Linked DNA regions of Homo sapiens: regions 1, 2, 3, 4 and 5 are each linked to region 6. The links come from fine-mapping of genetic effects on gene expression. A gene starts in region 6. Each other region holds a variant in brackets. All regions are shown on one strand. Distances are between the middles of the regions.

The links. PIP is the estimated chance that this variant, and not a neighbour inherited with it, causes the effect.
Region 1: its variant is fine-mapped to the expression of ST6GAL1 in platelets (CEDAR, PIP 0.95).
Region 2: its variant is fine-mapped to the expression of ST6GAL1 in naive CD8 T cells (Schmiedel 2018, PIP 0.95).
Region 3: its variant is fine-mapped to the expression of ST6GAL1 in fibroblasts (GTEx, PIP above 0.99).
Region 4: its variant is fine-mapped to the expression of ST6GAL1 in whole blood (TOPMed, PIP 0.96).
Region 5: its variant is fine-mapped to the expression of ST6GAL1 in skeletal muscle (GTEx, PIP above 0.99).

What each region holds. Positions count from the first base shown.
Region 1 is chr3:187,019,254-187,024,327 of GRCh38, reverse strand. The region is part of intron 2 of ST6GAL1 (ST6 beta-galactoside alpha-2,6-sialyltransferase 1); the gene reads right to left. Among named protein-coding and RNA genes, the nearest start is that of ST6GAL1, 91 kb to the right of the region's middle. RefSeq lists a silencer at 21-110, an enhancer at 2,077-2,346, a cis regulatory region at 2,349-2,442 and a promoter at 2,349-2,926. The variant C/T (reference allele first, on the strand shown) is at 2,439.
Region 2 is chr3:186,906,337-186,911,410 of GRCh38, reverse strand. No RefSeq gene overlaps it. Among named protein-coding and RNA genes, the nearest start is that of ST6GAL1, 22 kb to the left of the region's middle. RefSeq lists enhancers at 1,088-1,782, 1,801-1,850, 1,921-2,020, 1,783-2,478. The variant C/G (reference allele first, on the strand shown) is at 2,023.
Region 3 is chr3:186,879,466-186,884,539 of GRCh38, reverse strand. No RefSeq gene overlaps it. Among named protein-coding and RNA genes, the nearest start is that of ADIPOQ-AS1, 21 kb to the right of the region's middle. RefSeq lists enhancers at 3,482-3,982, 3,983-4,483. The variant C/T (reference allele first, on the strand shown) is at 2,369.
Region 4 is chr3:187,066,548-187,071,621 of GRCh38, reverse strand. All of the region lies in intron 5 of ST6GAL1 (ST6 beta-galactoside alpha-2,6-sialyltransferase 1), which reads right to left. Among named protein-coding and RNA genes, the nearest start is that of RPL39L, 70 kb to the left of the region's middle. RefSeq lists a silencer at 4,812-4,861. The variant T/A (reference allele first, on the strand shown) is at 2,881.
Region 5 is chr3:186,990,169-186,995,242 of GRCh38, reverse strand. All of the region lies in intron 2 of ST6GAL1 (ST6 beta-galactoside alpha-2,6-sialyltransferase 1), which reads right to left. LOC124906314 (a long non-coding RNA gene) reads left to right here and starts at 291. Exons shown (of 3, transcript XR_007096208.1): 1 at 291-3,603. RefSeq lists a silencer at 4,108-4,402. The variant C/A (reference allele first, on the strand shown) is at 1,933.
Region 6 is chr3:186,928,202-186,933,275 of GRCh38, reverse strand. ST6GAL1 (ST6 beta-galactoside alpha-2,6-sialyltransferase 1) reads right to left here and starts at 2,750. Exons shown (of 8, transcript NM_173216.2): 1 at 2,442-2,750. RefSeq lists enhancers at 304-363, 384-433, 2,527-3,135 and silencers at 2,330-2,519, 2,760-2,839.

The DNA of each region.
Region 1 (5,074 bases), 91 kb before region 6:
AGGTCAGGAGATCAAGACCATCTGGCTAACATGGTGAAACCCCCGTCTCTACTAAAAATACAAAAAATTAGCCAGGCGTGGAGGCATGCACCTGTAGTCCCAGCTACTCAGGAGGCTGAGGCAGGAGAATCACTTGAACCTGGAGGCGGAGATTGCAGTGAGCAGAGATCATGCCACTGTACTCCATCCTGGGTGACACAGCGAGACTTTGTCTCAAAAAACAAACAAACAAGCAAAACATGTATATATGTATATATATAAAACATATATATGTATATATATACCCAAAAGGATCTAAGTCCTGGTAGTCTAAGGGAGTTGGAGGTGAGGAAATGAATAGGGAAGGTTGAGTTCTTCTACTTTGTGGTGGCCCCGGGGCCTGTAAGAAAACTTACACCAATACTCATGCGATAGGTTCATTCTTTTTTTTTTTTTTAATTATTATTATACTTTAAGTTTTAGGGTACATGTGCACAACGTGCAGGTTTGTTACATATGTATACATGTGCCATGTTGGTGTGCTGCACCCATTAACTCATCATTTAGCATTAGGTATATCTCCTAATGCTATCCCTCCCCGTTCCCCCCACCCCACAACAGTCCCGGTGTGTGATGTTCCCCTTCCTGTGTCCATGTGTTCTCACTGTTCAATTCCCACCTATGAGTGAGAACATGTGGTGTTTGGCTTTTTGTCCTTGCCATAGTTTGCTGAGAATGATAGTTTCCAGCTTCATCCATGTCCCTACAAAGGACGTGAACTCATCATTTTTCATGGCTGCATAGTATTCCATGGTGTATATGTGCACATTTTCCTAATCCAGTCTATCATTGTTGGACATTTGGGTTGGTTCCAAGCTATAGGTTCATTCTTTCAGCAAATGCTGATTGCCTACTGTGAACCAGACTGCAGACACAGCAGTAGAGAAGCCAGCCAGAAATCCCTAACCCCTCCAGCACTCACCTTATAGTGAGGATAAATAAAGAGTCAAACAACATAAATCCGTGGTGCTTTGCAAGGAGATAACTGATATGCAGACAATTAGAGTAGGGAAGAGAAATAGGGACAGCTTGGAGTGGGTGAGGTGGAGATTTAAATCAGATGATCAGAGAAAGCCTCACTGAGAAGAAGACATTTGAGCAAGGGTTGGAAGGAGGTGTAAACCAAAAATAAAATCCTAAGCCCCCCACTAACCAACTGAATGGACTCCTTTTTGGCCATGGGCACCCCAGAGAAACCTGAAAAACTGAATTCCCAGCCATGACAGAAAGGAGGTTACACCCTCATCATACCCCTCCCTTTTGGGGTTTAGGTACAAGTGACCAGCATTAAGGTAAAATAGAGATTATAAGACTGACCAAACAGACCCTTTATGACAATAAGATACCAAACTATACACAATACCTAAGGCCATAAAAGGCAAAGATTAAGTCATACCCTAGAAACAATACAGTCTCATTAAATGGGTTTTTTAATTAACCCAGTAAAATGTGGCTTACTCTCCAACCTGACTCTGGTATAGTATCACATGACAGACAGCAGACTCTGAAGGAAATTAAAATATTTTGCCCCAAAATACATTTCTTTGACATATTTGGAAAAGGCTGCCAGACAGCCTTTGGACTGCAAAGCCATCTTTGGTGGGGGAAACGTGCATCTCCAGAGAATCGATATTAATGTCTCTTCCCTTGCTAGGCCTTTCCCAGATCTAGGAGAGATTCTAACTGAGAGTCAGACACCCAAAGGTCTGAGAAGAGACAATCACTATCTATTCACCCAGAGGGCTGCTATCTATGAGGCTCCAAGGACCTAGGCCCCCACAACCTCCTTATCTTACTCAGGCATTCCTTCCTACTGACTTCAAGTCACTAGACAATAACTTGACTCTCTCAGCTACTGTTAGCTAAAGAATCCCTAAAACGCACTTAAGACTTGTAAGGCCCCTCAGCCCTCCCCTAACCCTCTACCCCCCAAGTCCCTGTGTAGGGAAAACTCTCTGTAGCCATCTTTCCTCTGCTCTCACACCACAACAATCAACACAGAAGATGACTTATGTGACCATATGTGTGGGGGTCCCACCCCAACACCAAGCAGCGACACCAGCTTGGTGTCCTCTAATTCAGTTCCAACACTATCTACCTGGAAATAGTGTCAGATCCTACAGATTGAGGGCTTAGTGTCCAAGACATCCCCCCTCCACCAGTCACAAGTCCAGGCCTCCAGAACTTCTTTCTGACCAACCAGCTTCCATTGGGGTTCCCCTCTCCGTGGGTTCAATTAATTTGCTGGAGCGGCTCACAGAACTCAGGGAAACACCCTACTTACATTTACTGGTTTATCATCAAGGATGCTGCAGAGGATACAGATGAAGAGATGTGTAGAGCAAGGTATGGGAGAAGGGATGCAGAGCTTCCACGCCCTCCCTGGTTGTGCCGCCCTA[C/T]AGGAACCTCCTCCTATTAAGCTATCAGAAAGTTCACCCAACCCTGTCCTCTTGGGTTTTTATAGAAGCTTCCTTGACGTCAGCATTTCTTCCCCCAGGGCATAGGGTAGGAACCTCTCATGGGAAGGTTTTTTTTTTTTTTTTTTTTTGAGACAGAGTCTCGCTCTGTCGCCCAGGTTGGAGTGCAGTAGCATGATCTTGATTCACTGCAACCTCTGCCTCCCGGGTTCAAGCAATTCTTCCTGCCTCAGCCTCCCGAGTAGCTGGGATTACAGGCGCCCACCATCACACCCGGCTAATTTTTCTATTTTTAGTAGAGACGGGGTTTCACCATGTTGGTCAGGCTGGTCTCGAACTCCTGACTTCAGGTGATCCACCCACCTCGGCCTCCCAAAGTGCTGGGATTACAGGCATGAACCACTATGCCTGGCCTCATGGGAGGGTTGTAAGGCCCACAGTCAGGCCAGAAAACATAAAAACCTTGCCTTGGGGCAGGTGAAAGGACGGCAGGAGAGAGACTGTTTCTTAGGGCCTGTCCCTGAAGTCTAAAAAGCCCAGCATTCTAGCAAGACTGTAGCAAGGGCTATGGGGCTATGCGCCAGGAAACATGCATGGAAACCAACACATAGTCCAGGCATGATGGCTCACGCCTGTATTCCCAGCACTTTGGGAGGCCAAGGCAGGTGGATCACGAGGTCAGGAGATCGAGACCATCCTGGCCAACATGGTGAAATCCCATCTCTACTAAAAATACAAAAATTAGCCGGGCGTGGTGGCATGCTCCTGTAATCCCAGCTACTCAGGAGGCTGAGGCAGGAGAATCACTTGAACCCAGGAGGCAGAGGCTCAGTGGGCAGAGATCACGCCATTGCACTCCAGCCTGGGTGACAGAGCGAGACTCCATCTCAAAAAAAAACAAAAAAAAAAACCACCAATACATATATCCTAACACCGCACCCTCCCCCACTTTGAGATGTCTCACATTTTTTGGACAGAACTACCAGTTACCTTCCATGTACTGATTTCCAGATATCCTTGCCTGTAATGCCTGTCTCCCTAAAATGTATAAAACCAGACTATGGCCCAACTGCCTCAGGGCCACTCACTCAAGGCTTCTTGGGTTTGTGTTTTCTCTAAGCTACAGTAACTCATATTGCCTCAGGATAAACTTCTTGAAAATATTTTACAGAATTTGGTTTTTCTGTTAACAGAGATGAAGGAGGCTACCATGCAGATTTCTGAGAAAAGAGGGTTGCAAGTAGAGGGAACAGCAAAATACCTACACAGGGGCAGCCAGATAATGTGGCGCCTTACACAGGTGTAGGGGTTTTGGCTTTCATCTGATTAAGACTTTGCCGATGTATGTTTCAAAGGCATCACCGGATGCTGCCTTAAGAATCAACTGTAATGAACAGCAGGTCTTATAGATGTTACCAAATTTAATTCTTACCACCACCCTGTGGGGTGGGGTATTAACAATCCTCTTTTTTAAATAAAGAAATTGAAACTCAGAGAGTTTAAGTCATTTGCTCAAGATGTCACTGTAAATGGTGAAACCACGGTGTGTTTTGTTTTTTGTTTGTTTGTTTGTTTTTGAGACAGAGTCTCGCTCTGTTACCAGGCTGGAGTGAAGCAGTGCAATCTCGGCTCACTGCAACCTCCACCTCCCAGGTTCAAGCAATTCTCTGCCTCAGCCTCCCGAGTAGCTGGGATTACAGGCACCCGCCACCACGCCCGGCTAATTTTTGTATTTTTAGTAGAGACGTGGTTTCACCATCTTGGCCAGGCTGGTCTTGAATTCCTGACCTCGTGATCCACCCGCCTCAGCCTGTCAAAGTGCTGGGATTACAGGCATAAGCCACCATGCCCGGCTGACCAGATTATTCTAACCAACAAACTGGTAGTGCTCTTCATCCTATGTCCCTCTACTCAGGCCCTTCCAAGGGCTACTGCGAGCCTCTCTGCTTTATCACACCAACTACAGTTGCTAATCACTGTATTGACCTTCTGGTGACACCTATTTACTCTGCCCTGATCTTCATCTCCTTAATCTTTAGTGCACAAACCTCACCCTCATCTGGACCTTAGAACCCAAACTTTCTGTTCTTAGACTTAGAGTGCTTGACACCCTGTTGCCCCCAGAGGGTGGCATAGTGCCTCCGAGAGGGGCTCCATGTGTCCTGGCTGCCAGAAACCCTCTCCCATGAAGGACTCCCATTTCTCTAAGAGCTTGGATTCTTAATGTGTGCCACCTGAGCTGCCACTTAATGCTGACCCTTCTTTCTCTTTCCTCATATCAGGGATAGCTGGCTGCCCCACAAGAAGTTTGCTCCTTCTGCCATATAGTTATTGCTGTAAATTACTGTCCAGAGAGGGATTGCATTTTACACACACACAAACACACACAGCATATAGATGGGATCATTTTACTAGTTATTGGCAAAGAAATGTGAGCAAAAATAACATACATCACTTCTGGGCCAAGATGGTTAAGACGTGAGTTTATTTGCTCTAGCAGCTAGCATTACCCTATAGAGCTACTCAATAGAGACTTCCTGAATATTTATTTCTATGGTTTAAAACCATCAACAGAATATTCAGCTATAGATTTTTCATATCTCCTCATCCCAACATTT
Region 2 (5,074 bases), 22 kb after region 6:
CCATGTTGGCCAGGCTGGTTTCGAACTCCTGATCCACCTGTCTCGGCCTCCCAAACTGCTGGGATTACAGGTGTGTGTGCCACTGCGTCAGGACCTCTTTTTTCACTTTTAAACAACAGAATATAGAATATAATCCTAGGTTATTAGTTTTGAATTTATTTATGTATCATTCTAACATACAAATCCACTTGGAAATATCTATAAGCATGCTCACAAATTTTAATTTTATTTCTAAATGGTGGGATATGGAGGTAATTTATTGTTTTCTTCTTTCTACTTTTCTGGATATCATGTTATCACTTTGGTTAAAAAACAAAAAAAGCCCAACAACCATTTTTTTGAGCAAGAGAAATGGGAAACTTGTTTAAATTCGCATAGATTGAAGCTGGGATGGGAACTCGTATCTTCCAAACTTTAAAAACTACGAACCTGGCCGGGCATGGTGGCTCATACGTGTAATCCCAACACTTTGAGAGGCCGAGACAGGTGGATCACTTGAGGTCAGGAATTCAAGACCAGCCAGGCCAACATGGTGAAACCCTGTCTCTACTAAAAATACAAAAATTAGCTGGGCATGGTGGCACATGCTGTAATCCTAGCTACTTGGGAAGCTGAGTCAGGAGAATCGCTTGAGCCCAGGAGGTGGAGGTTGCAGTGAGTCGAGATCACACCACTGCACTCTAGCCTGGTTACAGAATGAGACTCACTCTCAAAAAACAAATAAATAGGCTGGATGCGGTGGCTTACACTGGTAATCCCAGCACTTTGGGAGGTCAGGGCGGGAGGATCACCTGAGGTCAGGAATTCGAGACCAGCCTGACCAACATGGAGAAACCCCATCTCTACTAAAAATACAAAATTAGCTGAGCGTGGTAGCACATGCCTGTAATCCCAGCTATTCAGGAGGCTGAGGCAGGAGAATTGCTTGAACCCGGGAGGCGAAGTTTGCAGTGAGCTGAGATCGCACCATCGCACTCCAGCCTGGGAGACAAGAGTGAAACTCCATCTCAAAAATAAATAAATAAATAAATAAATAGAAAGAAAAAGAAAAACTATGAACCTTACTGCTCTCTTACCTCCCATACCCTGAGGTTAAGGAACTTGAAGACTTAATATGATTAATAAATTAATATGCCAGAAATTACGATGCATTTAAAGTGCTTGACACAGTGTCCAGCAAGTAGTGCATAGATGTTCGCTGTTATAATAATGGTAATTATCTTTATTTAATACTATAATATGATATTAAAAATGTTATGATAGGCCAGGCGCAATGGCTCATGCCTGTAATCCCAGCACTTCGGGAGGCCGAGGCGGGTGGATCACCTGAGGTCAGGAGTTCAAGACCAGCCTGGCCAACATGGGGAAACCTCGCCTCTACTGAAAATGAAAAAAAAATTGGTGCTGGCAAGATGGCCGAATAGGAAAAGCTCCGGTCTGCAGCTCCCAGTGAGATCATGCAGAAGGCAGGAGATTTCTTCATTTCCAACTGAGGTACCCAGTTCATCTCACAGGGACTGGTTGGATAGTGGGTGCAGCCCACGAAGAGCGAGCCAAAGCAGGGTGGGGTGTAGCCTCACCCAGGAAGCACAGGAAGCACAAGCGGTCGGGGGATTTGCCTCCCCTAGCCAAGGGAAGCCGTGAGGGACTGTGCCGTGGCCAACAGAGCACTCTGGCCCAGATACTGTGCTTTTCACATGGTCTTTGCAACCTGCAGACCAGGAGATTCCCTCCAGTTGCCCATGCCACCAGGGCCCTGGATTTCAAGCACAAAACCGGGTGGCCGTTTGGGCAGACATTGAGCTAGCTACAGGAGTTGTTTTTTCATACCCCAGAGGCACCTGGAATGCCAGCGAGACAGAACCGTTCACTCCCCTGGAAAGGGGGCTGAAGCCTGGGAACCAAGTGTTCTAGCTCAGAGGGTCCCACCCCCACGGAGCCCAGCAAGCTAAGATCCACTGGCTTGAGATTCTCGCTGCCAGCGCAGCAGTCTGAAGTTGACCTGGGACATTCAAGCTTCGT[C/G]GGGGGAGGAGCATCCGCCATTGCTGAGGCTTGGGTAGGTGGTTTTACCCTCACAGTGTAAACAAAACCGCCAGGAAGTTCAAACTGGGTGGAGCCCACCGCAGCTCAGCAGGGCCACTGTAGCCAGACTGCCTCTCTAGATTCCTCCTCTCTGGGCAGCACATCTCTGAAAAAAAGGCAGCAGCCCCAGTCAGGGACTTACAGATAAAACCCCCATCTCCCTGGGACAGAGCACCTGAGGGAAAGGGCAGCTGTGGGTGCAGCTTCAGCAGACTCAAACGTCCCTGCCTGATGGCTCTGAAGAGAGCAGTGGACCTCCCAGCACAGCGTTCGAGCTCTGATAAGGGTCATACTGCCTCCTCAAGTGGGTCCCTGACCCCTGTGTATCCTGACTGGAAGACACCTCCCAGTAGGGGCCGACAGACACCTCATACAGGAGAGCTCTGGCTGGCATCTGGCAGGTGTCCCTCTGGGACAAAGCTTCCAGAGGAAGAAACAGGCAGCAATCTGCTGTTCTGCAGCCTCTGCTGGTGATATCCAGGCAAACAGGGTCTGGTGTGGACCTCCAGCAAACTCCAGCAGACCTGCAGCAGAGGGGCCTGACTGTTAGGAGGAAAACTAACAAACAGAAAAGAATAGCATCAACATCAACAAAGAGGATGTCCACACAAAAACCCCATCCGAAGGTCACCAACATCCAAGACCAAAGGTAGATAAATCCATGAAGATGGGGATAAACCAGCACAAAAAGGCTGAAAATTCCAAAAACCAGAATGCCTATTCTCCTCCAAAGGATCACAACTCTTTGCCAGCAAGGGAACAAATCTGGACGGAGAATGGGTTTGACGAATTGACAGAAGTAGGCTTTAGAAGATGGGTAATAACAAATTCCTCCGAGTTAAAGGAGCATGTTCTAATCCAATGCAAGGAAGCTAAGAACCTTGAAAAAAGGTTAGATGAATTGCTAACTAGAATAACTAGTTTATAGAAGAACATAAATGACCTGATGGAGCTAAAAAACACAGCACCAGAACTTCGTGAAGCATACACAAGTATCAATAGCCTAATCAATCAAGCAGAAGAAAGGATATCACAGATTGAAGATGAACTTAATGAAATAAAGTGAGAAGACAAGATTTGTTATAATTATCATTATTTAATACTATAGTATTTTCAAAGAATGAAAAGAAACAAACAAAGCCTCCAAGAAATATGGGACTATGTGAAAAGACCAAATCTACGTTTCATTGGTGTACCTGAAAGTGATGGGGAGAATGGAACCAAGTTGGAACACACTCTTCAGGATATTATGCAGGAGAACTTCCCCAACCTAGCAAGGCAGGCCAACATTCAAATTCAGGTAATACAGAGAACACCATAAAGATACTCCTCCAGAAGAGCAACCCCAAGACACACAATCGTCAAATTCACCAAGGTTGACATGAAGGAAAAAATGTTAAGGCAGCCAGAGAGAAAGGTCGGCTTACCCACAAAGGGAAAACCATCAGACTAACAGCGGATCTCTCAGCAGAAACCCTACAAGCCAGAAGAGAATGGGGGCCAATATTCAACATTCTTGAAGAATTTTCAACCAAGAATTTCATATCCAGCCAAACTGAGCTTCATAAGTGAAGAAGTAAAATCCTTTTCAGACAAGCAAATGCTGAGAGATTTTGTCACCACCAGGCCTGCCTTACAAGAGCTCCTGAAGGAAGCACTAAATGTGGAAAGGAACAACCGGTACCAGCCACTGCAAAAACATACCAAATTGTAAAGACCATCGACACTATGAAGAAACTGCACCAACTAACAGGCAAAATAACCAGCTAGCACCATAATGACAGAATTAAATTTACACATAACAATATTAACCTTAAATGTAAACGGGCTAAATGCCCCGATTAAAAGACACAGACTGGCAAATTGGATAAAGAGTCAAGATCCATCAATGGTGCTGTATTCAGGAGACCCATCTCATGTGCAGAGACACACATAGGCTCAAAAGAAAGGGATGGAAGAATATTTACCAAGCAAATGGAAAGCAAAAAAAAGCAGGGGTTGAAGTCCTAGTCTCTGATAAAACAGACTTTAAACCAACAAAGATCAAAAGAGACAATGAAGGGTATTACACAATCGTAAAGAAATCAATGCAACAAGAAGGGCTAACTACGCTAAATATATATGCACCCAATACGGGAGCACCCAGATTCATAAAGCAAGTTCTTAGAGACCTACAAAGAAACTTAGACTCCCACACAATAATAATGGGAGACTTTAACACTCCACTGTCAATATTAGACAGATCAATGAGACAAAATTAACAAGGATATTCAGGACTTGAACTCAGCTCTGGAACAATAGACCTAATAGATATCTACAGAACTCTCCACCCAAAATAAACAGAATATACATTCTTCTCAGCACCACATCACACTTATTCTAAAATTGACCACATAATTGAAAGTAAAGCACTCCTCAGCAAATGCAAAAGAACGGAAGTCGTAACAGTCTCTCGGACCACAGTGCAATCAAATTAAAACTCAGGATTAAGAAACTCACTAAAAACCACACAACTACATGGAAACTGAACAACCTGCTCCTGAATGACTACTGGGTAAATAATGAAATTAAGGCAGAAATAAAGATGTACTTTGAAACCAATGAGAACAAACACACAACATACCAGAATCTCTGGGACACATTTAAAGCAGTGTTTAAAGGGAAATTTATAGCACTAAATGCCCACAAGAGAAAGCAGGAACGATCTAAACTTTACACCCTAACATCACAATTAAAATAACTAGAGAAGCAAGGGCAAACAAATTCAACAGCTAGCAGAAGACAAGAAATAGCTAAGATCAGAGCAGAACTGAAGGAGATAAAGACACAAAAACACCTTCAAAAAAATAAATGAATCCAGAAGCTGGTTTTTTGAAAAGATCAACAAAACAGATAGACTGCTAGCCAGACTAATAAAGAAGAAAAGAGAGAAGAATCAAACAGAAGCAATAAAAAATGATAAAGGGGATATCACCACTGATCCCACAGAAAT
Region 3 (5,074 bases), 49 kb after region 6:
TTGTTAAACAGATGCTTGAAGGCAGCATGCTCGTTAAGAGTCATCACCACTCCCTAGGAAAACCAGAGACCTTTGTTCTCTTGTTTATCTGCTGACCTTCCCTCCACTATTGTCCTATGACCCTGCCAAATCCCCCTCTGCAAGAAACACCCAAGAATGATCAATTAAAAAATAAAATAAAATAAAATAAAAGACCTAAACATAAGAGGTGAAACCATAAAACTCTTAGCAGGCTGGGAGTGGTGGCTGAAGCCTTGTAATCCCAGCACTTTAGGAGGTCAAGATGGGCAGATGGCTTGAGCCGAAGAGTTTGAGACCAGCCTGGGCAACGTGGCAAAACCCTGTCTCTACAAAAAATACAAAAATTAGCCTGGCGTGGTGATACACACCTGTAGTCCCAGCTACTAGGGAGGCTGAGGCAAGAGGATTGCTTGAGCCTGGGAAGACAAGGCTGCAGTGATCCGTGATCAAGCCATTGCACTCCAGCCTGGGAGACAGAGAGAGACTCTGTCTTGAAAACTAACTAAATAAACAAATAAAAGCAAGAATCTAAATTGGCACTTCTGCAAAGAAGATACACAAATGGTCAGTAACCACAAAAATAATGCTCAACATCATTAGTTCTCAAGGAACTGCAAATCAAAACCACAATCAGATATCACTTCACACCCACTAGGATGGTTATAATTTAAAAGACAGATAAGAGCAAATGTTGATGAGAATGTAGAGAAACTGAAACTCTCATGCACTGATGCCAGGAAGGTAAAATGGTACAATGCCTGGGTGACAGAGTGGAGAATCTGTCTCAAAGAAAAAGAAAAATCTTGAAATCGTGTCTTGTGACTTTGGAAAACAGCCTGGTAGTTCTTCGAAATGTTAAACATAGTTACCATTCCTAGGTGTATGTATACCCAGAGAAATGAAAATATATGCATACACAAAAACTTGTACACAAATGCTCTTAGCAGCATTATTCATAATAGTCCCAAAGTGAAAACAACCCAAATGTCCATCAACTAATGAATGGACAAATGTAATGTAGTACAGTAGTGCTTCTTCTCATCCGCAGTTTCACCTTCTGCAGTTTCAGTTACATACAGTCAATTGCATTGGGAAAATGTGAAATGAAAAACTCCAGAAATAAACAATTTATGAGTTTTAAATTGTGCAGGCCAGGTGCAGTGGCTCACTCCTGTAATCCCAGCATTTTGGGAAGCCAAGACAGGCAGATCACTTGAGGCCCAGAGTTCAAAACCAGCTTAGCCAACTTGGTGAAACCTCATCTCTACAAAATATACAAAAAGTAGCCAGGCATGGTGGCGCATGCCTGTGGTCCCAGCTGCTTGCGGGGCTGAGGCGGGAGGATTGCTTGAACCTGGGAGGCAGAGGTTGCAGTGAGCAGAGACTGAGCCACTGTGCTCCAGCCTGGGTGACAGAGTGGAAACGCTGTCTCAAAAAAAAAAAAAAAAAGTTTGAAACTGTGTCTTGTTCTGAGTAGCATGATAAAATCTTATGTCATCCCACTCCATCCTTCCCAGGAAGTGAATCATCCCTTTGTCCTGTGCATCTATGTTCTCTATAACACCATTAGTCACTTAGTAACTATCAGATTGACAGTTACAGTATCACAGTTCTTGTATTCAAGTCACCCATATTTTTCTTGATAATGGCCCTAAAGCACAAAAGCAGTGATGCTGGCATATTTTTATGAATTGTTCTATTTAGTTATTGCTGTTGTTAATATCTTACTGAGCCTAATTTATTTTTATTTCTATTTTTATCTTATAATTTATAAATTAAACTTTATCCTAAGTATCTATATATAGAAAAAAACATAGTATATATAGGATTTGGTGCTATCTGTGGTTTCAAGCATTCCCTGGAGAACTCGGAACATATGCCCCCCAGATAAGAGGAAACTACTGTGTATCCACATAAGGGAGTATTAAGCAATTGAAAGAAATAAAGTACTGGTAAATGCTATAACATGGATGAACCTTCAAAACATTATACTAAGTGAAAGAAGCCAGTCGTGAAACATCATAGTGTAATGCATTACATGAAATGTCCAGGCTAGGCAATCTATAGGAACAGAAACTAGATTAGTAAAAGCTAAGACTGGAGGATTTCAGAGGAAATGAGGAGTAGCTGCTGATAGGTATGAGGTTTCCTTTGGGGATGATAAAATTCGTCTAAAATTGGTTGTACTGATGGTTTCACAATTCTGTGAAACCCAAAAAGCATTGACTGGCAGGAGAGGGGATTCCTTTAAACGGGTGAATTGTGTGGTATGTAAACTATATTTCAATAAAGCTCTTACAAGAAAAAAAAAAGATGGCTATGACATGATTCTTGCTTTGGAAGAGCA[C/T]GACTCAGACATTTTGAATCCTCTGCATTCCTATAAAAATTTCTGAATTGTTTTAGTGTCTTCCAATAAAAGAGGAAACAGCGGGTACAGAAGAGAATCAATAGAAACATCCACTAAAATATAAAAAGGATTACAAAATAAAAGAGTTTCACCAACACTCCAGGCAACGGGGCTAGAGATTAACATCAGCTCTATTTATACTGTTTGCGCATAATTGCATATGGTTACACATGCTTAAGTTGACTAAAAATTACATCTAGGCCGGGCACGATGGCTCACATCTGTAATCCCAGCACTTTGGGAGGCTGAGGTGGGCAGATCACTTGAGGTCAGGAGTTCGACGCCAGCCTGGCCAACATGGTGAAACCCCATCACTACAAAAATACAAAAACTGGCTGGGTGCGGTGGCTCATGCCTGTAATCCTGGCACTTTGGGAGGCCGAGGCTGGCGGATCACGAGGTCAGTAGTTCGAGACCAGCCTGACCAACATGGTGAAACCCCGTCTCTACTAAAAGTACAAAAATTAGCCAGGTACGGTGGCACATGCCTGTAATCCCAGCTACTCAGGAGGCTGAAGTAGGAGAATCACCTGAACCTGGGAGGCAGAGGTTGCAGTGAGCCAAGACTGCACCACTGCACTCCAGCCTGGTGACAGAGCGAGACTCCATCTCAAAAAAAAAAAAAAAAATTATCTGGGTGTGGTTGCGTGCATCTGTAATTCCAGCTACTGGGAGGCGGAGGCACAAGAATTGCTTGAACCCAGGAGGCGGAGGTTGCAGTAAGCTGAGATCGCGCCACTAGACTCCAGCCTGGGTGATGGATACTCTGACTCAAAAAAATTTAAAAAAATTATAAAAAATTACATCCAGGTCAGTGATTCTCAAACCTTGGTGTGCTTACCTGAAGAGCTTTTAAAAACACATATTGCTGGGCTCCACCCCAAAAACTTCTGATTCGATAGGTTTGGGATAGATCCCAAATTATTTGCATTTCTACAAAGTTCCCACGCTGATGCTGCTGGTCTGAGAACCGCTTGGAAAACTACTGGCTCAGATCTTTTCAAGATGTCATTCTCAGCTCATCTTCATCTCATTAGGTTAAAGAAGTCCTCTAGATGTTGGGAAAGTCAAGACGCACGAGACAGGCTTCCTGACAATGGTAGCTAACGCTCTGGCACTCAGAGAGGGCAAATCAGATGCACCAGGGCCTCTTCTACTTGTTAAAACTACATCTTACACCATGTTGCTTCCTATTATAACAGTAGCTGTTGCAATTTTGTTCATTCTGCCTCATATTGCAACAAAGAAGATTCTGGAGTAGCTTTTTTCTGTTGGCGCTTATTGAGAGTGGAGGAAAATAATGAAAGCCATCGCCCCTAATCACAAGGCATCAAAGCTGTTTTTAGGGGCATGTTTCTCAGCAAGATTTCCTCGAAGAGAAACCAAGGGCTTGGTCATCACTAGAACTTCACCTCTGAAATCTTACCTCACATCTGCAAATCATTCTCTCTCTCACTCACTCTCACTGTACCTTCTTTTTCTCTTTGCATTTCTGTTATGTTTGTTTCCTCCTTTCTACCAATCTGTTGAATCTGTGTAGGCCTCCGTGGCTGTACCCATTGTTGAATACCTAAGCTATTTTCACAGGCCTCCTAGGATCCAGCACCCTACCTGTCCAATGCTAAATTAGTGCTATAACCACCACTTTTCCAGTCCTACACCCGAGCCCTTTGTTTTACCCTCTCAATCTTCTGCCAGACTAGAGAGGGACAGTCATCATGCTGCAGGTTTAGAGTAGAATTGAAACCAACTTGTCTTTTTTAAGCCCATATTTACTCCTATTGCAAGAGATACTTGGTGCTGCCAATTCCTGAAACTTTTGTGTGTTTTGGGAAACATATATAGTACTTCTTTGCATTTTCCCTGCCAGCTTAAGAGTAACTTTTTCAGTCTGCTAAATCATTATCATTAGTTATGCCTGCAAGTTGTTATTGCCCCTGTCTACCCTCTTCTTCATTTGCTTTTGTGCAAACATTTATGCTTTTTAAAAAAATTTGCTGTTGTTTTAGTGGAGTTTGGAGAAACAGCAGAGGCAAATACATGTGTTAATTTCAGCATCTTTATCAAAAGCCTTGCATGTTTCCTCCTAGAGAGAGAGAGTGTGTGTGTGTGTGTAATGATTGTGAGATTCATCAGACTGATGTTTGTGGCTTTAGGCCATTCAATATTACTATTTTACAGTATCCTATTGTTTGACTATATAAAACTTTATTCATTCCTTTTTTGATGCACATTTGGGTTGTTTCCAAGTTTTGCTCTTACAAAACAATCTGCTATAAAAATTATTGTGTGTGTCTCCTTGTACACCTGCGTGAGAGTTTCTCTTAAAATGGTGGAAGATAGAATGGATTGTAAACTATAAGCCTCTTCAGCTCTGGCAGATAATATGAAATGGATTTCCAAAGTGATTTGATCAACTTACACTCCTACCAGCAATTAATAATGACTTTACACTTATGTTAACCCTTGGTATTATCAGATTTTTAAAATTTTTGCCAATCTAGTGGGTTTAAAAGGAACAAATGATCATTGGTGGATGCAAAAACTATTGCTTGTAAATTGCAAAAAGAAAAATGGACCACTACAATGGAGAGATCTGTCTGTCACCACCTTAGCTGAGTGACCAAATTTGACATCACTAACAAT
Region 4 (5,074 bases), 140 kb before region 6:
GCCCGGCTAATTTTTTGGGGGTTTTTTTGTATTTTTAGTAGAGACGGGGTTTCACCTTGTTAGCCAGGATGGTCTCGATCTCCTGACCTCGTGATCCGCCCACCTCAGCCTCCCAAAGTGCTGGGATTACAGGCATGAGCCACCGCGCCCGGCCGGCCCTCATTTTCTGATCGGTGAAATGGGAATAACACATTTGCTCTGCTCTCTCAAATATGAGCTGTCTTGCGGATCAAATGGAGATCATGAGTGAATGAGAAAGAAAAGTAGCCCCAAAGGCTTAAGAATGAAGGGAGCCATGTCCCTCTTAAGAAAGCCAGAATTAATATATGAAATCAGCTGTCAACATTCACCTTAAAAAGCAGGCGGGAGATGATGTTGCCCAGGTAAAAATTGAGAGGAATAAATGGCAGAAATCAAATCAAGAACTGACTGAAACGAAAGCAAGAATCATGACAATAATCCCTCTCCACCTCAGTCTACATCGCCAAGGCTGAGACCTAATCAATGTCACTGCAGTATCTGGAAAAAACTATGGCAAGAGAGACGGCCTGTGTGCAACCCAAAGAATAGCAAGCAATCTGCCACGAGCCTCTACAATCACTGAGCTATCCCCATGCCCATACCTTCCTACAGATGTAAGGAAGTTCCTGGAAGCCTGAAGAATATACTCTCATTTCCTCAATATATCTTTGAGACAAGAAATATTGGTGGTCGGTCTACCTTGGCTGGAGATTGTGCAGCTATACTGGGTGCTAAGGAGCCAAAGGAAAGACACAGTCCCTGCCCTCCAGGAGGTCACAGGGTAGTGGGAAAGGTGGACAATTGAACAATGGTTAACACGCTGTGATGGTGCAACAACAGAGGTAGTATGAGGATGGCCATAAAGTGAGCGAGTGTTGGGCCGGGTGCGGTGGCTCACACCTGTAATCCCAGCACTTTGGGAGGCCGAGGCGGGTGGATCACAAGGTCAAGAGATTGAGACCATCCTGGCCAACATGGTGAAACCCCGTCTCTACTGAAAATACAAACATTAGCCGGGCATGGTGGCGGGTGCCTGTAGTCCCAGCTACTCGGGAGGCTGAGGCAGGAGAATCACTTGAACCCAGGAGGCGGAGGTTGCCGTGAGCCAAGATTGCACCACTGCACTCCAGCCTGGCAACAGTGAGACTCCATCTCGAAAAAAAAAAAAAAAAAAAAGAGCAAGTGTTAGGGGGCAAAAAAGAAGATGCCAAGCAGAGACTGTAAGCATGAGAGAGGGGGTGTCTGAGACACGGGGAACCACGTGCAAACCCCTGAATGTGTGAGTGTGTGGCAGAGACTGCCAGATGTTACCCAGCATCCATTCGCTATTTCTTCCTTGACCACCAACACCTCTGGTTTTTACTTTTGCACATGGCAACCTAAAATAGACTCCCTGAAATAAAAAAATTTCATAGCCTCTCTTATAGATAAATATGGCTGGGTGACTAATTCTGGCCAATGGAATGTAAGCAAGTGTGGCTTCCAGGAACTATCCTTAGAGGCAAGGTTATGCCTTTCCTTGTTCCTTCTTCCTCCTGGCTGAAATGTGGATGTGATGGCTGGAGCTTGAGCAGTCATTTTGGACCATAAAGTGGAAGTCATATGCTGAGAACGGCAAACCCACAAAGTAGAAAGAACTTGGATTCTGACACTGGAACACCATATTAAGTTTGGAATGTCTACTTTTGGACTTCTTTTGCATGAGAGAGAAATGCATTTTTTGTTTTGTTAAGCTAGTGTGGGGGGATGTGTGTTCCTGTCTCTTGCAGGAACAACTAGTACAGTGTGTACCCTGTTTGGGAATTGCAAGTAGTTCAGTATGGCTAGGATACAGAGAAAGAGCTGGAAGAGATCAGAGAAATGTAGACAGAGGCCAAGCCAGGGAGCTTAGGATTTCTTCAGTAGGTTATGGGGACCAGGAAAGGGTTTTAAGTAAGGAAGATCTAAACATGCTAGAGTTCTGAATTAGTGTTTTTAGAAAAAAGAAGACCACAAAGAAGCTCCTGTTGTCACCTAAGAAATAATGGAGTAAAGAAAAGAAGTTACAATTGTCGGCTGTAGATGTGAAGACTAATTGAATGTTGAGAGTGAGGGAAAAAGGGGACCAAGGGGACTCCTGGACCTCAGGCCATTTCCTGCATAAGAACAGAGAAAAAGGAACAACTGGTATATGCCTGTGGGAGTAAGGTGGGGTGGAAATTTGAAGTTCAAGGATGAGGGCTGGGCTCACTTGAGGTCAGGAGTTCAAGACCAGCCTGGCCAACATGGCGAAACCCTGTCTCTACCAAAAATACAAAAATTAGCCAGGCGTGGTGGCAAGCACCTGTAATCCCAGCTACTTGGAAGGCTGAGGCAGGCGAATAGCTTGAACTCAGGAGGCAGAGGTTGCAGTGAGCCAAGATCGTGCCACTGCACTCTAGCCTGGCGACAGAGCGAGACTCCGTCTTGAGAAAAAAAAAAAAAAAGAAGAAGTTCAAGGATGAGACTACTGGCCAGGAGTTCCCTGGCTGACAGGCCATAAGAACTAAGAACAGAACCCACATCTTGTAACTTTTAAGTACTGTCCTCCTTCCACTGGGAACGTTGTAACTTAACAACAGCCCTTCAGGTCTATAGTCCAAGGGCAGAGCAGGCTTCCTGCTAGATGGGGATTTGTAAGATAGACGTGACTGAGCTGGTGACAGGGAGGCCTGAGGACAGAGGGCCAGTACTCCCTATCCTCATCCACCCTATTCCCCTGAAAACAGCTGTTATATTAAAAGCAAAGTGTCTTTTCTTTAGCTATGCTTCTTTCTATGCAGAGTACTGATGCCAGGTGATATATACATACTCATGAGGAATAGCAATAACTGGGATTTT[T/A]AAAAAATGTCTCCCCCTGCTATAGCCCCTTTCCAGCAATTTTGAGTATGCAAAGCAGGAGGCCAGCAACTCCTGGCTCCCTGAGACTTTCCCAGCTGTGGCTTCACCGTCCTCAGAAATTCCAAGAGATGCACGAAGCTTTCTTCTTTACAATATGTGAAAACAACAGACACCATTTAATGATGCTTACTACATGCTAGGTACTGTCATACCTCAACTCAGTTTATCTTCACAACAGCCCTAGGAAGTAAGTGTTAATATGTTCATTTTATGATTAAAGAAATAGAGATGCTAAATGCTAAGTAACTTGTCCAAATTACACAGTCAGTAAGTAAGAGAGTCTGAATTGGATTCTTAGGTCTAGCTCCAGAGACCACACTTCTTTTTTTTTTTTTTTTTTGAGATGGAGTCTCGCTCTGTTGCCCAGGCTGGAGTGCAGTGGCACGATCTTGGCTCACTGCAACCTCCGCCACCCAGGTTCAAGTGATTCTCCTGCCTCAGCCTCCCAAGTAGCTGGTACGACAGACATGTGCCACCACACCCAGCTAATTTTTTGTATTTTTAGTAGAGATGGGGTTTCACTGTGTTAGCCAGGATGGTCTTGATCTCCTGACCTCGTGATCCACCTGCCTCGGCCTCCCAAAGTGTTGGGATTACAGGCATGAGCCACCACACCCGGCCCAGAGACCACACTTCTAACCTATGTGCTATAATGCCTCACATAATGTGGGCAGGGTAGGGTACCACAGCTCTTGGGGAAGGACGTCAGAGAACACTGGATAGGAGTATGGAGTGTCAGGAGAATTTGCTTCTTGCCTGAGTTGTAGTATGTCACAGCTGGATGATACTCAAGGTATTAAATTCAGACCCATCATTTTCCAGATGGGTAAACTGAGGCCCAGAGAGACAAGAGAATTGTCTAAGGCTACGATGAGTTTGTGGCACAGTTAGAACCAGAGCCCAGAGGCAGGCTCCTAACAGATATTCTTTCTGCTCCAGCAGGACTACACCCATAAAACCATCAGACATTCAAATAAGCAAGCACACCATGAGGGTCAGGTCACCCTCAGTCTTCCTGTATCCAATGGAAAAACAGCCATTCACTTGAGCTACTTGAGATGAATGAGACAGTAATCCATGAAAATAGAAACAGGTGAAGATGAATGATAGTTTTATCCAGAGAAGAGAAACAGAAAGTGGCTGGGGCTGGGATCTGGTTGAGGGATAAGGGAGAAGCCAGCAAGCACTCCCCTCCTGGAACTTTACACATGGCTCTGAACTCACCCACATTAACACCATCTATATGAAGTTCAAAGATTTTCTACCAAAAAAAAAAAAAAAAAAAAAGGTTGCCTTGCCAGGTGCAGTGGCTCACACCTGTAATCCCAGCACTTTGGGAAGCTGAGGTGGGCAGATCACTTGAGGTCAGGAGTTCGAGATCACCCTGGCCAACATAGTAAAACCTCGTCTCTACTAAAAATACAAAAATTAGCCAGGCGTGGTGGCGGGCACCTGAAATCTCAGCTACTCAGAAGGCTGAGGCAGGAGAATCGCTTGAACCCCGGAGGCAGAGGTTGCAGTGAGCCAAGATCGCACCACTGCACTCCAGCCTGGGTGACAGAGACTCTGTCTCCAAAAAAAAAAAAAAAAAAAAAAAAAAGAAAGAAAGAAAGAAAAGAAGATTGCCTTAAAACTGGATGGGGAATTGGAAGCATGGGTTCCAGTCCTGCTCTGTGTCTAACTCACTCCATGGTATTAGATGGACCATGTCACATCTCCTGGCCTCAGGTGCCTTATTTAGACATAACCACCTTGTAAGGCCCTGCTGAGGGGACCAGCTGTTCCTGGAAGAATAAAGCTGTTCTCAAACGCCTGTACTTACCTGCAGGGGGAGTGTGACCTGGGTTTGGAGATCCTCTTAGGGGGCAGGGGAGGAGTTCATGCTGAGAATAAGTCATTGGCAGAGCAGCAGAGCCCTGGGGAACATCTGCCAGGAAAAGGCTACACCAGGGCATGGAGTGCTGCTGCTCAAGACACTGTTTAAAGTAACCTTCTCAGTTAGAAAGTAACAAATACTCACTGGGGACAGTTAGAAAATGCAAGAATAGAAACACACACACACACACACACACACACACACGCACGCACGCACATCTTCAGATATTACCACTGTGCATATTTTGGACTTTTTTCT
Region 5 (5,074 bases), 62 kb before region 6:
GCCACCATGCCTGGCCCATTTTAACAATCTTAAAGGTCTTATCAATCTATTGCACTTGGATTTTATCTGGATCCTAATTTGAATACACAAACTATTTTAAAACTATACACACCCATATCTATATACATACACTCAAACACTAATATATACACATACACACATATATATATAATAATTGAGGAAAATTGAATATTGACTCCATATCTGGTATTAAGGAATACTTACTTACTTACTTATTTGAATGTGATAATAGTATCTTGTAGTTTTTATTTTTAAAGGGTCTCTTTTTTTTTTGTTTTTGAGAGGGAGTCTCACTCTGCTGCTCAGGCTGGAGTGTGCAGTGGCGTGATCTTGGCTCACTACAACCTCCGCCTCCTGGGTTCAAGCGATTCCCCTGCCTCAGCTTCCTAAGTAGCTGAGATTACAGGCGCCCACCATGCCTGGCTAAATTTTGTGTTTTTAGTAGAAACGGAGTTTCATCATGTTGGCCAGGCTGGTCTCAAACTCCTTGGCCGCCTTGGCCACCCAAAGTGCTGAGATTACAGGTGTGAGTCACTGCGCCCCGGCCTATTTTTAAAGGGTCTCTATCTTTTAAATATACATACTGAAATATCTACAGCAAAAATGAAAAAATAAACAGCTGAATTTGAAGTCAGTTAAAATAACATCTTATTTTGTATGACTATTCATGTGCAGTAAATGAAAGTTAAACAAACAAAAAGTCCCCCCACTTTGAATCACCTATGAAATACAGAATATATGGTCTGTTTATACAGCCCTGAACACTCATATAAAATTCACTCAGTGAATCTAACACAGCTGTGTTAGACTCCAGCCCTGAAAGGGATCAGGATGTGCACCAGAAGAAGTAATTGTCTTCAGTTTACTACCATGTTACACTAAAAAGACAAACATTTAAATACTGGGATCACACCTGGACCAACAAGCTGCTCACCCTACAGAGACTGAGAGAACTCGAATTCATGTCTCCCCACCTGCACTTGTGGGCTTTCAGCTGATCAAGAGGCTGTCAGAACTGTGGGCATTATTTCAATTACTCTCTCTTTCTCTCTCAATCTCTCCACTTTAAAAAAGTTGCTGAGTAGAGCTGAATCGACATATTTTTCTCCTCCAAGGTGAAGCTGTACTAGGCTTCTACTAGTTGATATTTAAGGATTGAAGACAATCTCATCCCAACACATAGAAATATGTGGAAGGCAAGGAGCCTGCCGAGTGCTTCAGGCCACAGAGACCCTCTCTGATGACGAAGTAGAGCCATGTCTACCTACATGCAGCAGCAGAGAGCCCACCATTCAATTGTTATTATGATGATGATTATTATCATTATCATCATTGTTATAAGTATCGCTTACATAACGTAATGTGCTAGGTTTTCTCTTTTATTGTAAATCTTCTGAGTAATGCTGTGGGTTGATTATTTTACAGGTGAAGAGGCTGAAGCTCAGAGGAATCAAATGATTTTCGAAAGACCACACAGCTAGAAAGTGACAAAACCAAAATTCAAATCTAGTTTCCCAGGCCCACCCTTTTCTTTTCTAGCATGCTGCTACTCCTGGTTGGAAAGAAGGGCTTTAAGGCACAGTTATTTACCTAGGCCTCTTAGTTTTCTAAAACATATAAATAAATAAATAAATAAATAAATAAATAAATAAATAAATAAATAAAACTCTGTCAAGTTATCTAACTGAGAAGCAGAGAAAAACTGCACCCCGTGATGCCAAGGGGTAGCTTCTGCAAATCTGCACCTCTGTTTAGTTTTGCTTCCAGCTTCTCTGGCCACCATTATGTCTTCCATCTCGCTAACACGCTTGAGAGAACAGGACAAGACATGCTTGACTTTTTTGTTTAGAATGAAAGACGTACAGGTGACCCTATGCCAAAAACGGGAAATCTTAACTCCATCGGGTCATT[C/A]TGGCCACTTAAGAACCAGACTGGATGTTTCTGAGAGTGAACTATCAAAGCATGTGCTCAGCCCAAGGGCCACCAAACAGGGCCCACCAGCAGTGTGCCCTCGAATTAGATTCCTTTAAGAACTTGTTATTTCAACTCCCCATGCAGGTGTTTATCGAGTACCTGCAAAGGCAGCCCCCACCCGAAGCTAAACGCACTAGGGACACAAACACTCAAGTCAGAGTTGCAGCCCACAGCTATGGCCAGGAGACAGAGGAGGGGAGTGATGGGAGGGAGCGGGGAACAGCTGTCCTCTGTCACAGGATCTAGCTGCCGTCAATCCAGGAAGAACTGCACGGGACAGGCAGTGTTAGGCAAGTTAGTAAACAGTTTGCCTCATAAACACTGACCAGCAGTGGAAAATATCTGACCTAGATAGATAGTGGACTGTGAGCACCTTAGGGGCAAGGACCACGTCTAATTTGCTTTTCTGTTCTCAAAAAAGTAGGCCTCAAATATTTGTTGTTGTTGTTTTTGAGACAGAGTCTCACTCTGTTGCCCAAGCTAGCGTACAGTGGTGAGATCTCAGCTCACTGCAACCTCTGCCTCCCAGGTTCAAGCGATTCTCCTGCCTCAGCCTCCGAGTAGCTGAGATTATGGGTGCCCGCCACCACATGCAGCTAATTTTTTTTGTATTTTTAGTAGAGACGGGGTTTCACCATGTTGGCCAGGCTGGTCTTGAACTCCTGACCTCAGATGATCCACCCGCCTTGGCCTCCCAAAGTGCTGGGATTACAGGCGGGAGCCACCGCGCCCGGCCATGTTTTATTTATTTATTTATTTATTTTTTAAGGTCATGATTGTATTAGTCCATTCTCACACTTCTGTGTGAGAACTGCCGGAGACTGGGTAATTTATAAAGGAAAGAGTTTTAATTGACTTGCAGTTCCACATGGCTTGGGAGGCCTCAGGAAACTTACAATCATGGTGCAAGGCAAAGGGGAAGCAAGGCACCTTCCTCACAAGGCAGCAGGAGGAAGTACCAAACACTTAAAATACCATCAGATCTTGTGAGAACTCACTCACTATCATGAGAACAGCATGGGGGAAACAGCCCCCATGATTCAATTCCCTCCACCTGGTCTCTCCCTTGACATATGGGGATTACAATTCAAGATGAGATTCTGGGTGGGACACAGCCAAACCATATCAATGGTCATGTACTACATTTAGAATTTTGGAAGGTATTTATGGCGGGATACTGAAACTGTTTTCACGTACCACAGCAGAGTCTGAAGGGCTCAGTTTGAAGAACTGGATTCCCAACCTCAGGATCGATTTGGCCATATGGGAGGTCAGCTGGAGATGAGGGAGACTGAAAATTGGAGATAACCCCAGAGATGACGGGCAGGTTACCCTCTGTCCTCAGATGGGAGGGGAGGTGGCTGGGGAAAGGATTCCAACTCTGAGTTCTATTGTGGGAAGGTGAGCAGAGTCAAGCTCTGTGGCTCAGTGGAACTTATTCCTGCCCACAAGCTCAACATCTCCACCTCTGCCCCCAGCAGTGGAGTTATGACAGCAAAGGAGACAAGGTGAATAGGGATCACCCCAGAGGATCAGTATGGGATGAGGCCAGCCGGTGAATCACCCACGCTCCCAAGGAACCCACGCCACAGGAACACACACCTCCAGGTGAGACTCGGAGAGGCCAGAGGAGATAAACCCTTGGGAGAGTGAGTGAAATGGCCTGTATCAGTCCATCCAGGGAGGAACCAGAGACACCCTTTGACTCAATGTGTGGAAAGAACCAGCAAGTCTGACATAAAAAGTGTATCAAATAAGAGGTCATTTAGTATCAGGAGCCAAAGCCTCCCTGATCCCCAGTGTGAGTTAGGAACCCTTCCCTGTGCTCCCACAGCACCCTGTACAGACCCCAAGACAGCGCCCCTCACAGTTTCTATGTCCGTTTCCTCTATTAGGGCATGACCTTTCAGAGAATTAGCAACCATCCTAGCCTTCTCTGAAGCCCAGGCACCTACCACACCGCTAGGCCCAGGTTAGGTCCTAAGAAATGCCTTTTGTATGCCCTGAACAAATGAATCATGAATGAGGCATCTCTGGGAGAACCACACTCCACCCAAGGGAAAATAAATACCTGGCCTGGCTGAAAAGTCAAATCACAGCAAGTCCAAAAGAAGGCAACTAGCCAGGTGCTATCTGTCTCTCCCACATCATAAAAGAAATGCTTCAGTGGAAAAATCCTGACCACATGAGAAAAAGAAAAAAGTCAGTTAGCTACCACCAAGCACAAAGGGTAGAAGCCTGGCAAGCTGATTCACGCCAATACTGTGAAACCCGGCCCAGCGGTCTGCAGACAGCCTGGAAGCAGGGGTGGAGGAGGTGGGGAGGCGGACAAGCATGAGAGGGAGTGAGGAGAACTTACTGGAACAAGCATCTAGGTCAGCTGCTCCTGGGTAATGCCAGAAGCTGGTTTATATCCTTTTTTTTTTTCTTTTTTGAGATGAAGTTTTGCTCTTGTTGACCAGGCCGGAGCGCAATGGTACGATCTCGGCTCACTGCAACCTCTGCCTCCCGGGTTCAAGCGATTCTCCTGCTTTCTACCTCCTGCTTTATTTTCTTTATTGAAATTTTTTAGAGGAAATCAAAAAAAAAAAAAAAAAGAACATCCTGTAGGAAGGGATTGGTCTAAGAGGGAGGGATGGGAGAAGGCGGCTGGGGTTGAGGTGAGGTAGAGAACTCTCCTCAGCCCCAGCCAAGGAATTCTTCACACCAAGTAGCTACCCACAGATGACTGAATATAGTCATCAAGTCTATCAATAGTCTATGCCTATCATCACAAATATTAACACCATGGACTGAACATGAACACATGCTAGTGCTGTGCTGCTGGGCAGTTTCTCTCGCTCTAATGATCATTAAGAATCTGGCAGGTGGAAATGAGTCACCTGCATTCAATAGATAGAGATGAGAAGCTTTAGGCCAAGCTTGGTGGCTCACACCTGTAATCCCAGCAATTTGGGAGGCCAAGGCGGGCAGATCACTTGAGGTCAGGAGTTCGAGACCAGCCTGGCCAATATGGTGAAACCCTGTCTCTACTGAAAATACAAAAATTAGCCAGGCATGGTGGAATGTGCCTGTAATC
Region 6 (5,074 bases):
GGGCCTTTTATGGACTCAGAATAGGGAGTGCATGCTGACCGGTTTGTGAGTATGCAAAAAAGATGAAAGCAAAGACACCACTCAAAGGTGGGCACGGCAGCGTAGAAAACCAATTAGGAAAAAGTGGGTATATGTAAAACAGGCGAAATGTAGGAATCAATTAGGGGAAAGCACGCCAAACAAGTTCTCACTCTGGTCTGAGGATTTAACTCGTAGCTTGGCTTTCAGGCTTTAAACTGTCTTTGGCCTGGAGGTGGGGGTTTCACCGGGTACCTGACCCTATCTGCCTAGGCATCCAGCTGCCTCCTGTTGCTACCAGAATCACATTGAAAGTGAAACACGCTGGAAACTCTAAGGAAAAGAAACAAGTGTAACTAGGAGATAACAGGCACAGTGCAAAACAACATGTTAACTTTGGGGAAATCCGGCTTCTCAGTGTTTTTTTGGTTTTCCTACTTCTCTGCCAAATACAAAAATAAGCAGCTACTTCCATGGGACTCTCGTTAAAAAAAAAGTAACTTTAATAAGATCAGTGAAAACAATGCTTTGTTCTCCCACAAGTGGCTCAGGAGTAGCTTGCTAAGACACACTTTCTTCCCCGTGGGGCTGATGTCAACAGCCCATGCTTTTGCCCAAACAAAGGCCTCCTGGCACAAGGATGAGAGGCAAAACATCTGAGTCTCCGTAGCTGGCCTTATTCCAATTTGAGGGGAAGGGGCAGCCAGGAGAGAAAAATAACTAAGCTTTTGAAAGGCTTGAAGGAGAGTAAGGAATTACTAAATCTATTTTTTCTCAACAGAATAAAGAATTCTTGAAAGGGATAATGGAAGGGTGCAGCTTTCTATTTGAATTACTCTTTGTTTCACCCTATTCTGCCTAAGGCCACTGCCTTTTAGGCCAATCACAGAATCCCGGTTTTGCCTTTAGTTGCCCGCTGAGCGATGCAGTGGGAGTTGGGAGACCCACACTCAAGTGTTCTCTCTGTGGCCCGTTTCACCCGGTTTAAACTTGGACAAGTGGCTGAACTCTCCGGCCTCAGCTTCCTGCCTGTAAAATGAGAAGGCTCCCTAGATGCTCTCTAGACCTTTTCAATAACAGCGGAATAGGATTGGAGGCTCTCCAGTTCCCCCCCCGGGGACAGGTTAATCTTCAGCCACACTAGCCAAGGTGAGGCAGCAGCCCGCCCGCTCAGCAGGCACACACTGGGGCGGCGGCGCCTCCATTCCTGCTCACACTGCACGCCCACAACCTGCACCAACACCATCGCCTCAGAGACCAATTCACCGCGAAACCATCTCCCCGCTGCAGATCGTGTCCGATTAACATCTGCAAAGCTGAGCTGAGCATATGTAAGCAAAGAAAAAGCAAAACAAACAAGAGTTCTCTTTTTCCGGACCTCGGAATTTCTTTCAAATAAACTCAGAACTGAAAATTGTACGTCCCCAGCTAGAATACGAGGTCTCGGCTGGCCTTGCTTGCGAAAATGCATTAACAAGCCAAAAGGGGCTAGTGACATCTGGGGTGTCTGGGCACACGGACACGGGCCTCAGAGGCAAAGAGCAAGACCGCACTGGGCGACTCGTACATTCTTCCCGCAGGCTGAGGAGGCGACCAAAATATCCCCACAGAGGCAATCGCCGGAGTGCGGGGACAATAGTGCACCCAGCACTCTCTTTTTTTGAGGGGCACCCTTAGACCCTTAACCCAACCCACATCTCTAAGAGACCTCCAGGAGGTGAAGGTGAGGGGTGGTCCACTTCACCCAAAAGAATGCGCCACGGCCGGGGACCGACTCAGCCTGGAGTAACCTTTTTGTAGCTGCTTTCTTGTTTTGGTTTCCCTTTTTAAGTCTGGCAGTTTAGTCTGATGCCCAAGCGGTACCTTTTAAATGTCTCTCTCGCCCTCTTCCAGCAAGTGGCGCCTCTAGAGCCACTCCCTCCCCCGAGGCTGAGACAATGGCCCGGCACCGCAGGGCGGCCCCTAAGGGTATGCAGTGCGTCCAGCTCTCCGGGCAGGGCGCACGTGCGTTTGTTATGGTGCCTGTGCCCCCTCCGCTGCCGCGGGCCTCAATTTGTCGATCCGTAAACCCAGACTCTGCAAGGCGCAATGCCCCCACGCCACCCCACCCCATACTGACGGTGCCGTGGAGAAATCCGTGTTCCCCGGGGCTGTGCGCACGTGGGTTTGTTGTGGATCCGCAGGCTCGCGGAGCCAGAGAGAAGCCAGGGTGGCCCTTTGGCCCTGACAAAAATGCACACACCCCCAACCAAAAGGCGGCCAGCCCCGGAGCCAAGGCAGCTGAGGCGGAGCTGGAGAGAGATTCCCTGCGCCCTACGCGCGCCGCGGGCCCCGCGCCTCCGCTATCCTCCCGCGCCCCTTTGCATCACACTCCTCCCGGGATAGCCCGGGCCGCGCCGCCGCCCACCGCACCCCCTACTCACTCGCTGCACTCTCGGCCGCGGAGGCTGCGGTTGCTCAGCACGCTCGGTGGCGGCCGCCCGCTCCGCGCCCACGCCGGTCGGTATCGGCTCCCTTTGTTAACGCCGGGCAGTGCCCCAGGCGTCTTCCCCAGCCCGGCCCTGCCCAGGACTCCCCTCCCCCAGGTGACTCCAGAAAACGCGCTCGGCAAGGGCAGGATCGCCCGGGAGCTGGGGACCCCACTAGGGAGTCTCGAAAGAGGGGTCCGCTGGGGAAGAACGGGGGACAGAAGACGCACAGTGGAAGGGACTGGAGAAGGAAGGAAGAAGAGCGCGGCGGAGGGGCGGGAAGGAAGCGAGTCGCCTCCGTATGCAAATAGAGTTGCGAAGACTGGGTCGGTCTCCGCCCCCACTCCACCTCTCGCCACCGGCCACACCGCGCCCCAAACCGGCCTGGAGGTCGCTAGCGAGCGGGCTTGGGGTTAAAGACTCTTGATGAAGGCACTGGGTGATGCTAGAATCCTGCCTGCTCTCAAGGAGGGTGGATCGAGGGCCGAGTGGGAGGGGCCACGCGGCTGCGCAAGGACCCCTAAATGCCTCTTCCCCGCTTGGCCGCGAGGGGTCAATCCAGCAGTGTCCGGCTTTTGGTCCTAACATGCGGGTGCTGTACACCCGGTCTCTGCTACCGGCTGACTGCGAGACCCTGAGGAAGTCGCTTAACCTCTCCGAAGACTCGTGTTGCTCTTATCTAGAATAGGAAAGAACAAAATCTTTCACTGCGTTTGGCATTAACCTCCTAACATTGAGGCATGACTCCTACTGGGCGCTCTCAAATGGCAAATACAGAAGGAGAGGAGCGTCCTCGAACCCCTGCACCCAGAGGCTTCCACCCCAAGCTGCAGGCTGAAAGACTGAAGCCTCAGCCTGGATGGTGAAGGGAGCGAGGTTCTTTCTTTTCACCCGGACGACGGTGGGGCTGCTGGGGAAGGAAAGAGGATTAACCAAGCTGCGTACTGACCATCCCCGATAGCCCCAAGGCGATTTCCCTAAGAAAGAAAAACTGCCCAACAGGAGGGCGGAAGGGGCCTTTAAGGCCTCCAGTCCAGCCTCCCATAGCCCAAAGAGAGGATGTGACTACCAGAGGCAATAGTCATATCCCAGTTGTCTACTGAGTGCACACTAGGCACCAGGCTGTGTGCTGGGTGGGAAAGGGGAAAGGAAGGAGATACTGGAAGGTTTGGGGGTCCTCTGGGAACACAAAGTCCAGTGCACACTTAAAGTGCCTGAAGCCCAGGCCCAGAGTTCTGTCTCCAAATGAGGTGCCTACCCCACATCACCAACCTTGGAAAGGGAAGTTACATCCGCACCCTGTCCCCAGCACCCTTCTTCCAAACACTGCTTCCTCCCTGTCCTGATCCTGGCTCCCTTCTGCTGATACTGTCATTCCCTTCCCTGCTGCCCCTGAGGCATTTTTGCTCAGTACAAAGAGCTCCAATTGAAGGGAGTGCCAGCCAGAGTGAATTCAAATCTTTATGACCAACTCGCTGTGCCTTCTTGGGTGAGTTCCACATCCTGTGAGCCTCCCTTTCCTCTTCTGCAAAATGGAGATATTAAGGAAAGCGTTGTTTTCAGGATCCTGTGAAATGACCTACGTGAAACACGTAGCTTAGTGTTTGGCATATAGAAGGTGCTCCTGACAGTAAAATGTATGTATGCGTGAATGAATAGAAGCAGCCAAGTTCAGAAGACTATTTCTGGAAGGATGCTACATTGAAGATTTTAGGCCCTATTCGAAAAAGGGAAAAAAAAAAAGGAGGCTATTAAAAGATTCTGTGCAGTAGCATGACATGCATCTTTGTATTTTACAAGGATTCCTCTGGCACCACACTGGAAAATAGATGGCAGAAGCAGAGAATGCAAGAGACTAGATTGGAAGCTGACATCAATGGAGATATAATAAGAGCCTGAACTGTGTCAGTGACTGTAACAAGACAGAAGAAAAGGACATCTAAATAATAGCTACCATTTGGAGATCTGACATGGTTTGGCTCTGTGTCCCCACCCAAAAATCTCATCTTGAATTGTAATCCACATGTGTCAGGGGAGGGACCTCCTGGGAGGTGATTGGATCGTGGGGGGCGGTTTCCCCCATGATGTTTTTGTGATAGGGAGCTCTCACGGGATCTGGTTGTTTGATAAGTGTCTGGCATTTCCCCTGCATTCTCTCTCTCACCTGCCGCCATGTAAGATGTGCCCTGCTTCCCCTTCACCTTCCACCATGATTATAAGTTTCCTGAGGCCTCCCCAGCCATATGGAACTGTGAGTCAATTAAACCTCTTTTGTTTATAAATTACCCAGTCTCAGGTAATTTATAATTTTCTCAGTAGTGTGACAATGGACTAATACAGGATTCAAAGCACCTTATTTATTACATTGTCTCTCCTTTTCATCAGATAAGTAATGGTCTTAGTCCTATTTTATGGATTAGGAAACTGAAGTCATCTAGGAAGTGAAGAGAGAATTTGACACATTCTTCCACTTTCTTTGAAAGCTTTAATCATCTCCTTCATCATCACCCATATGTCAACATTACTTAAGAACTAAGAACAGCCTGGTGCGGTGGTTCACGCCTGTAATCCCAGCACTTTGGGAGGCC